Linked DNA regions of Homo sapiens: region 2 is linked to region 1. A link means that fine-mapping ties the variant in region 1 to the expression of a gene that starts in the linked region. Tissue or cell type: tibial artery. Region 1 holds a variant in brackets; the other region holds the start of a gene. All regions are shown on one strand. Distances are from middle to middle.

Evidence for each region. PIP is the estimated chance that this variant, and not a neighbour inherited with it, causes the effect.
Region 2: NT5C1A starts here. The variant in region 1 is the best candidate, but not a certain one, in a credible set for the expression of NT5C1A in tibial artery (GTEx, PIP 0.56).

What each region holds. Positions count from the first base shown.
Region 1 is chr1:39,648,311-39,653,532 of GRCh38, reverse strand. NT5C1A (5'-nucleotidase, cytosolic IA) reads left to right here. Exons shown (of 6, transcript NM_032526.3): 6 at 1-2,304. Among named protein-coding and RNA genes, the nearest start is that of HEYL, 11 kb to the right of the region's middle. The variant A/G (reference allele first, on the strand shown) is at 1,995.
Region 2 is chr1:39,669,130-39,674,351 of GRCh38, reverse strand. It overlaps NT5C1A (5'-nucleotidase, cytosolic IA), which reads left to right and starts at 2,245. Exons shown (of 6, transcript NM_032526.3): 1 at 2,245-2,448. The coding sequence starts at 2,314. RefSeq lists a silencer at 2,053-2,462.

The DNA of each region.
Region 1 (5,222 bases):
CCGATTGCTCTTGCCGGCAATTACTGTGATTGTGTGTATGGATGCACACATATTAAGTTTGTGCAACAGGATAAAAATCGTACACGTACGTGTATTTATGTGGGTGTGTGTAATGGGCCAGATATCTCAGCCAATGACTCTGTGTGTGTGTGTGTACTCACTATGTGTACAGATGGTTATCTCTGTTAACTGAGTGTCCTGGGACCCACATACTGATGGCCAGCCCTAGGATAGTTGTACCCATTTCCATCATAACATGGGCATTTGCGTATGTGCAGCTTGGGGGCCACCGAGACCAGCCCCCAACCTCTGGCCAAGAAAGTCTTGGCTCCTAACCCTCTGCCTCCTACCCCTACTCCTGAGCCTTGGGAAGGAAGTGGTAGAATCTGTGTAAGGGCAATCCTTTTGACTATACCTGCCTCATCATCTCCATTTGTTTCTTCCCTCCCCCTAACAGTGCCAAGGCCAACGTGTCCAGTTGGGCAGATTGTGCACTGCAAAAATCTAGAGGGCGCCATTGGTATTGTGACATGGGTAGTACCTATTAGACACCTGCACAACCTGCCAACTGTATACAGATGCCCTGGTCATCTCATGGCCATGGCTACGAAAGTTGCCTTCCCTCCCCACTACCAGCCCTGCCCAACCTAGGCAAAGATTCCTGCCTCTGCTTGAGTGTTCTAATGTGGCCCAGAAGTGACTTACCATTGACCTTAATTGGGAAGTATCTCCCTGATGGGCCATCCCCTAGAGGCCTTTGGAATTCCATTTATAAAAGTGAAATGTGGCTGGGAACTTTTCAGTTACTCATCTTTGCAAAGTGAAAGCCTCTGTAAGGCAAACCAAAGCTGTGAAGACTGGGGTCACTGACTCCCACACTCCTGGCCTGTGGGTGAATATATGCCTTCATGGCCATCTGCCACGGAATTAGGGTAAAGGCCTCAAGGCTAGTCTTGTAGCTAACTGCCACCAAGAAGCCACCAAGAAAATCACTGAGGTCACCCTAGACTGGATGCCTGGGCCAGGGTCACAAACCCCAATGCCTACAGGGGCGAGGCAGGAAACATAAATGAGTGGAGAGGATTAAGCCAGTTCTTCACTGAGAATGGAGAACACTGTGGTCTGCCATGGTTGCTGCCACATGGGAATGTGGCCTGAGGTTGCCGGATAGTCCGCCCCATTTTTGAAGAGAAGCTGGGAATCTGGACTTTTAAATGTTGGCAACTATTTTGAATTTAGAAAACACCATCTGGGCCAAATAAAACATATTCTGTAGGCGAGATCCGGCCCTTGAATCTCCAGTTTGCATCCGCTGGCCCAGGCCCAGAGACTTGGGTTTTTAAGACCCAAGTCACTGAGAGTCTGAGGATATTACACTCAGATTCTCAGTGATGGATATTTAAGAGACCTCAGAGATGACCTAGCTCAGCCTTTGTGTGTTCAAAACTGCGTATGTACAAACTTCTTTTTTTTTTTTTTTTTTTTTTTTTTTTTTTTTTTTTGAGACGGAGTCTTGCTCTGTCACTCAGGCTGGAGTGCAGTGGCACAATCTTGGCTCACTGCAACCTCCGCCTCCTGGGGTCAAGCAATTCTCCTGCCTCAGCTTCCTGAGTAGCTGGGATTACAGGTGCCCGCCACCATGCCCAGCTAATTTTTTGTATTTTTAGTAGAGATGGGGTTTCACCATATTGGCCAGGCTGGTCTCGAACTCCTGACCTCAGGTGATCCACCAGCCTCTGCCTCCCAAAGTGCTGGGATTACAGGCGTGAGCCACCACACTCGGCCTACGAACTTCTTTATTAATGTAATAGCGCACATATACTTAACTTCTGGTTTCTACTTAAGAGCATCTCAATAACCTCCGATATAGAATACGATGAAAAATGAAACCTGTGTGCATAATGTGCTTGTATCTACCTGTCAGAAGCCCTTTGCTTTGATAGCATTTGCTGCCTCAGTCTTCCTCATCACCCAACCTCTCTGGGTTGCTTGTT[A/G]TGATAAACCTAAGTGCCTCCGTAAATGGTTAGAGCATGTGTTTCTTCGTCTTTGTGACTTCCCTTGTCTGGGAATAAGACTGCTTGTACTTCTCCCAGCTTTGCCCTCTTTGGCCTACTAGTAGCACACCCCATCGATCCAGACCTGTCTGGCTCTTTGTAACATTTACCTGGTCACATGATAAAGGGTGCTGAGTGCTTGCCAGTGTGGGTCCCTGTCACTTCTCATGCATGTCCTATACCTTAATTTTACCACATGTGCTTCTGCTTCTTAAAAGCCATTCAAATAAATGGAGAGGGTTTTAATTAACTTACGTTGTCTTGTTTTTTCCCCACAATTGTATTCACAAACTGGCATATGGCCCCTCATGAAATGCTAATGGTGACGTAGGTAATGAAGAGGCCTGGGACCCGATTCATCCACTAGTGCTGGGATCTTTCTGTAGAATCTGTCCCAGCACATGAAGACCACCCTGAGGGGAGATTCCGCAATGGACAGCAGCCTGAGAGCATCAGAAGGCAAGCTTCCCCCAACAGGGCTCCTCACATGGACTCGGTGTTCCCATCTGGAACTACCAAGGGTGGGGATGGAGAGGGAGGAAGAGAAGATGAGAAAGGATGTGAGATGAAGGAAGAAGGGGATAACTCAGACTCCAGCCCTCACATCATTCTTCTTCCTGCACCCCAGGGTCTTCCTACACCCCAGGGTCTTCCTGCACCTCAAAGTGTCTGCAGAGCAGGAATCCAAGAGTGGCTTTTCTGGGTGGTTCTTACTCAGAGCCTCTCATGAGGTTGTAGTCAAGCTGCCAGGTGGAGCTGCAGTCAATGGAAGGCTTGCCTAGGGCTGGAGGAGCTGCCTCCAAGATGGCTCACTCACATGGCTGTTGGCAGGTGACCAGAGTTCCTCACCACAATGTTACCTGAGTGTCCTCATGACATGGCTGTTGGCTTCCCTGAGAGTGAGTAATCCAAGAGAGCAAGGCAAAAGCCACACCATCTTTTATGACCTAGCCTTGGAAGTGACATGTCATCACCTCTAGCATATTCCATTGGTCACACAGACAAACCCTGATACAAGGTGAGAGGGGACTACGCAAGGAGGTGAATATCAGGAAGTGGAGATGATTAGGGGCCATCTTGGAGGTTGGCTACCACATATTATTATACCTCCATCAGTCTGGTATACCAGGGGCCCCCAAGGTTATGTTAACCGTTCTTCTGCCCTGTGGCAAGACTAGACTTGAATGTGTCTCCTGGATTCTCCAACCTGAAGTCCCCTTGCTTTCCCACCTGTCCCCACCCAGTCACCAGGAATGGAGAGAAATATGATTCTTCATCTACTTCCTTCCCACACCTCCTGTCCAACATTCCTTCAGGGGCCTTGGAGTCACCTACTTGGGGACATCATCGAAACTGTGTTCTGAGATGTCTTAGTCTCATGGTAAAATTTTTATAATGTCCATAAGGCCAGTGGTCCCAGAGCTGTTTGTCCTGTTTTATGACCAGTGGCCCATGTCCAAGGTGAGGGAAAGGCAGGGGTGGGGGAAGGGTGGCATCCTAACACCCCCTCCTTCCTAGGCCTTGGATATCAGCCCCAGCCTCTGGTGCCATAAATGAATCCTCTACTTTCTGACATGGTCTTGGACTGGATTTGGGAATAAAAACCCCATGATGTGATACAGATGTGACTGTGGCTTGGAGCTGGAACCAAAAAAAAAAAAAGGAGTAACCACCAGATAAAGAAATCACAGACATAATTCTTTCTCCTCCCGTGTGCACTCCCTTTTCAACTTGCAAAGCTCATCCATGACCTAAGGCCTATGTGTTCTGTTTTTTTTTCTTGTGCTTACTAGTAGCCAGTTTTATTTTCCAATAGGTCACTTAAAGAAACATTATTTTTGGCCGGGCGCGGTGGCTCACACCTGTAATCCCAGCACTTTGGGAGGCTGAGGCGGGTGAATCACGAGGTCAGGAGATTGAGACCATCCTGGCCAACATGTTTAGTAGAAACCCCGTCTCTACTAAAAATACAAAAATTAGCTGGGCATGGTGGCATATGCTTCCACCCTCAAGATCTCATAATCTCCCAAAGGCCCGACCTCCTAATATCATCACATTGGTGATAAGGTTTCAGCATATTAATTTTGGAGAGGTATATTCAGACCATAGCAATTTGAATCTTCATTCTTTTTTTAAAATTTAATTTAATTTAATTTAATTTTAAGTTCTGGGATACACGTGCAGAACAGGCAGGGTTTTTGGGTTTTTTTTTGTTGTTTTGTTTTGTTTTGTTTTGTTTTTTTGAGATGGAGTCTCGCTCTGCCACCCAGGCTGGAGTGCAGTGTCGCAATCTCGGCTCGCTGCAACCTCTGCCTCCTGGGTTCAAGTGATTCTCTTGCCTCAGCCTCCCAAGTAGCTGGGATTACAGGCATGCACCACCACACCCAGCTAATTTTGTATTTTTAGTAGAGACAGGGTTTCACTATGTTGGTCAGGCTGATCTTGAACTCCTGACCTCAGGTGATCCAACCGTCTCGGTCTCCCAAAGTGTTGGGATTGCAGGCGTGAGCCACCGCGCCTGGCCTAGGTTTGTTACATAGGTAAAGGAGTGCCATGGTGGTTTGCTGCACCTACCCACCCATGAATCTTCATTCTTTCCTTCCTCTGGCAAAGTTCCCCTTAGAAGCCCTATGAAGCTCCAAGTGGTATAAAGCTCACCCCAGTGTGAGAATAATACAGCCACAGCCCAAGGATATGAACTTGTTACTTGCTTGCTGGGTGACCTTGCAAAACATGTATCCTCTGTGGCTGCCAGGAGAGTGCATAACTCACATCTCCTTCGAGAGAACCTGCTGCAAGGAGCATGATTACCCAACAGCCTGCAGCAGCTGCCCCTCTGGGTCTGCTGCAGCTTTCATGGGGCAGATAGCATGCTTTTCCTAGCCTGCTCCCAGTGGTGACTGGGCATGGTGGGGAAGCTAACACCAGGCTATTTCTGTCCTACGTGGGACCCCATCTTTACTCTGGGCCCAATGAGGACTTTCTCAGAGCTGCATTGCAGTCCAAGGCTCTTCCTAACCAAGCCATCTCCCTTCTCACTCTCCTTCACAGATGTCAGACCTGCATCATGGTCAAAAGGCTCTTTCTGCTTCCTCCTGCTCCCTCTCTTTTACCCTTATAAGCAATTTATCTAGTAAATGTTCTGCATCTCCAATTGGCCTTAGCATC
Region 2 (5,222 bases), 21 kb before region 1:
ATTTGTTGAAACAATGTGGAGAATCTCATGAAAGTGTAGAGATGGGCACCAGAGCCAGGCCTTAGCTAGAACTTGGGAAACTGTCAGGAGCAGAGGCGGCTCCATCTCAGGGCAGCATGGTTTCTCTCATGTGCTGCTCTCTGCACATCCTTTCCCATCTTGATCTGCTGCTCATCTCATTCTGCTCAGAGAGTCTCCACCTGCGCCGAGCTTTACTTTGCATATAACTGCAGTCTGCTGAGGCTCACCCAGGTCTCTTCGGAGCCAACTGTATTTCACAGCATCCTCAGCTTCTATTCCAATGGTTGACTGCCCAGCCCATTTCCCAATTCCAAATTCCTGAGAAAGACAAATCTGCTTGGCCCAGGTCATCTTTTCAAGCCAATCACACAGATTAAAGGCCGCTGGACAGCATGGGGGTGGCTCACTTTTGTGTGAAGTGCCCACCTCCATCCAAGTAACCACTCTATGTATTCTTCCTGAGTTACTTCATCATTCTTCTCCATGAGGCACCTGAGAATAATTGACCTCATTCCTAGAGTTTCAATTATTTATTGCAGTGTAACAAGCTACCCCAAAACTTGGTGCCTGAAACAACAATTTATTATTTTTGATGATTCTGTGAGTTGGCTGGGCTCAGCTGGAAGGTTTTACTGCTTCAGGTTGTGTTGGCTGGCGTCACCCACATAGCTGCACTCCACTGGGAGCTGAGCTGGGGCTGGGACAGCCAGGATGGCCTCATTCACATGTCTGTCAATTGTGCCTATAGTCACCTGGGCTGTCGCTAGCTTCTTATCCTCCAGGTCCTATCTGTCTCACTACGTGGCCTTTCCAGCAGGATAGTCCAGACTTATTTACATAGTAGCTGGCTCCCAAGAGGGCAAAAATGGAATCTGCAAGGCCTCTTAAGACGTAAGCTTGGAAACCACAGAGCACCACTTCTACTCCATTCAATTGGTCAAAGCAAGTCACAGGGCCAGCTCAGACTGGACTCCACCTCTGAATGGGAGGAATGTCAAAGTCACATTTCCAAAGGACAGGCAGGATGGAAGAGGTTTTTGGGCCATCTCTGGAAACAATCTTCTAGAAGTAAGTCTAAACACACTTCCCCCAATCCTAACATTTTATTATGATTTTTCCCTTCCTCCCACACAAGGGTTGGTTTATTCCTCCCAGGACCTGGTGGAGGCTGAGGGGATCACTCCATTCTGTAGCCCCCTCACCTCCCCAGTCAGAGGCCCTCCTAGCTAAGCCAGTGTTTTCTCCTGCTTCTCCCACCCACCCATGCACACCTCTGAGAGAGGCTGTCTGCTTCCTGGCCTGTACCTTGGGATGGGTGACATTTGTGTCTGCACCCTGAGACTAGTACAGAGCTCTGCATCAAGAGGGACAACACCCTGGAATTCCAGGATGGTAGTTCCGAGGCCCCTCTTCTGCCCTCCCTCTATCCAGCCCCTTCATGGCCTATAACAAATCACCCCAAGCTGGGCAGGTGGGGGCCTAGGAATGCGCGCCCTCTGCTGACCACCAAAGGGCCAGCAAGAATTCGGGTTCAGAGTCCCTGGGAGTCTCTCTGGCCTGGGTCCCCACCCCAGGCCAAGGTCTCGACCTGAGACCACCCGAGCCTGGTCTCAACATGGACTTCAAGGGCCCCTCCTAGGTGGTGTGGAGGAGCTGCCGGGTTGGGCCCTTCACTGAGCTCCCGCTGGGAGCAGGCTTCTGCTAGTGAGAGGAGCCATCCATGCATCACCTCCTGCCCGTCTGCCGGATGGACTGGCCTCGGAGGGAAGGGGACATCGTCAGGATCCCAGGGTCCTAGCTCCTAAAGGAAAGATGGGCAGCTAGCTTTTGGGAGGGGAGCGGCTAGCTTTTCATTTTGTCCTTTGGGGATCACTATCCTGGGGGAAAAAAAAAGTTGTCAGGCCTCTCCTGTCTCCGCGCCCTGCAGCGCCTGCGAAGAACATCATTTTCGCAATCCCCAATCCGCTGCAGCCCACAAACCCAGAGAGCCAGAGAGCCCCCCTCACCACCCAACCGGCTGCTGGCGTGGGTCGGTCGGGGAAGGAGAGCCCAGCTATCCCTCATACCGTACAGCAGTAGCAGCAGCAGCGGCAGCGACACACGGGCGACCGAGAGGGCCAGTGTGACCTCCCCCCGCCCGGCGGGCGGGGAGCCCAGCTCACACGCACAGCCTCCTCGCCGCTGCCCGCCCCCTTCCCTCGCCGGGACTCGCCTCCCTCCTGCAGCCCAGCCCCAGCCACCTCCGCGTCTACGCCGCCGCCTGCTCTGGCCGGGCCGGGTCAGAGCCGGAGCATGGAACCTGGGCAGCCCCGGGAGCCCCAGGAGCCCCGCGAGCCCGGGCCAGGAGCGGAGACCGCTGCGGCCCCGGTCTGGGAGGAAGCCAAGATTTTCTACGACAACCTCGCGCCCAAGAAGAAACCCAAATCGGTAAAAGCAATGCACGGGTATGCGGGGGACGGGGGAAGGGTTACCCCGGAGGAGGGGTCATAAGTCTCTTGGGAAGGGACCCGTGGCGCCCCTCTGGGAGGGGACGCAGCTCCTCAGCCCCAGAATGCGCCCTGCAGCTGGCGCGGGCTCGGGTTTATTTTGGGAGCTCTGCTCTGGTGTATTTTTTTACCGGGACTCGGGTTCCACGCCAGGCTCCCCCTCCCCCATGCTGTCATCAGGGCCCAGCTAGAGGCCCGCAGCCCCAGCCCCTCCCCACTCGGGCCGCCGGGGAGCGCGGATTGCACTTGTTGGCGAAGCTGGTCCGCAGCGCTTCCAGAAGCGCCCCAGGCGCGGGTAACCAGACTTTGGGAACCCGGTTCCTGGCTGTGCGCTCCGGTCTCCGCCATCTGGGCATCGGGCTCCGGACCTGAGACTCTGCGTTTGGGGTCTGGCTCTGGGTCCTGGGCCCTGGGCTGGGGGCAGTGCGCTCCCCGCGTCCTAAGGAAAGGGAGCTGCTCTCTCCAGGCACTGGGATCCACACTCTGCGCTGGGGGGCGATCGGCGCCCCTGGCCGCAGGCTCCCAGCGCTGGACTCTGCCCCCCAGCTCGGGTTCTGCTCCCCTTGCAGTGGGCATTAACATCCCCACGACCCTGTGGTGGTGTCAACCGTCTGGGACCTCACAGAGGAGCTCTCTCCTCTCTGCCATCAAACAAGTTGATGATGCCCTGGTCTGCCCCTGGACCTTGCTGTCTCCAACTTCCCAGATCTCAGAGCTTGAGGAGAAAACCGAGAATAGAGGTTGGCCCACAGCGGTCCTCCAAAGAGCTCCAGCTTGATCTTAAAGCAATTTGCTGCTTCCCTCCAAGAACCCTTCCCCAACAGGTCCACCCTATCAGCAATCATTCAATTAGCACCTCCAAGCTCTGCTCAAGAGTGGGGATTGAAGAATTAAATAACCTGAGTCCCTGCCTCAGGAGCTCACTGCACAATGATGGAGGCTCCAGAGATGAGAGCCTAGGGGAGTTGGGGGGGGAGTAGAGTAGTGACATCACACTGGGGAAAGCTTTGTAGAAGTGGCACGTATCCTGATCTTAAAGCCTGAGTAGGTGGAGTTTCCCAGGGAGAGGGAAACAGGACAGGCAAAAGTCATGCAGATGTCTCTGAAGCTCAGGACTGTGTTCCTGAATAAGTACTGAATGAAGAATGCAGGATTGTTGGAAGAAGAGCTGGAGGGATGTGGAAGAGCCCACAGAGGGCCTTGGGGATCATGTTAAGGAGTCTGGACCTTACTCAAGGGGGTCAGGGATTTCCAAACTAGCTTCCCCAAGCCCCATGTTTCAGGGAGTCTGCACACATGTGAATCCAATTTATTTTCTTTCTTCTTCGGACTATGTTTTAAACAATTAAAAATGTGTAATAAAACCCAACTCACTCTAATGTATTAGGTGGACATTTTAGCAGCTTGAAGGCCACTAGCTTGTGCTGCAGATTTTTTTAAAGCAAAGCTCAGAATAAGGCTTCCCCTGTGATCTGTTCCATCAAAGAGCGTCTTGAGATTGTAAGGCCTTTAGTTTAAAACAAACCAAAACAAAAAACCTTTTAGCATTTCCAACCACTTATTGGTCTGAATCAGGACTTTCTCAATACTGTACAAATACAAACACAGCAACAACTTGGCCGGATGCTGAAGCTTAAGTCTGCACTGGCATTCTAGCCGCTAGTTTCAAATTTGTTGTCATGCAAACAACTGTGTTGTTTTCATTGGTTGACTTTATAATAAATAAATAAATAAATGTAATGCATTTGAATCTGTAAAATAAATAAACACCAATTATATATGTTATATCTGGTACCATATGGTATGAGATATATGGTAATATCTGGCTTACATATTGAATTCAAAGTTTATTTGAATTCATTTAAATAAAAGGTCAACCTACATTTAAACAAACATATGAATACCATTATGGAGCTATTACAGGATTTTTCATCAGGGGATTAACTGGGTCCCATTTTTATTTTAGAAAGATCACTCTGGGATGGATTGGAAAGGGTGAGTCCGGCAGCAAACCCACCAGTGAGAAGGCTGGTGCCTCTCTGAAGAGGAAGCTGGATGAATGTCAATGCTGTGGCCTGAGTGATGCAGAAGAAGGGATGGAGACTGGGGACTGGGGCAGTGAAAGCATCAGTGCTCAAAATCCATTTCCTCCCCAGGCACCAAGGAACCGGAGAGCTCAGGCCCAGTTGTCAGTCATGACCCCTGGATCAGCCCCTGACTCTCATGGTTCTCTGGGAGGCAAGAAGCCTGGAGGCTTCCCAGCTCCTATTCCTTCCTGCAGAAGCCCCTCTTCCCACAGGCTATTTTGGGGGCTCTAGGCCTCATGGGCCCCATCATGGCCTGGCCTGGGCTAATTCTCATTCCCAGGGGCCTGAGTAAAATATTTAACGCCTGAAGGCCTGTTGGAGGCCCTCACCTCATGGGGTCAGAACACTTCTTCAATCCAAAACTCTCCTGTCCCTCTCTCTTTCAGCAGCCCTTCCCTCTCTAAGTCCTACTGGGAATAACAGCTTTTTGCCTATGTTTCTATCTTGGACCCAATAGGCAGAATTACGTTAGCCTAAATGGGAGCTCCTCAGGAAGTCCAGGTGGGGGTGGGCTGCACTCTGTTATTCTTCCATTCCCATCCCCTAGCCGGAGCCATCAGCCTGACCCTGAAAGGCAGAGAGAGCTGCCAGCACCCTGGTTTCCTGGAGCTCAGAGCTCCCAGAGTGA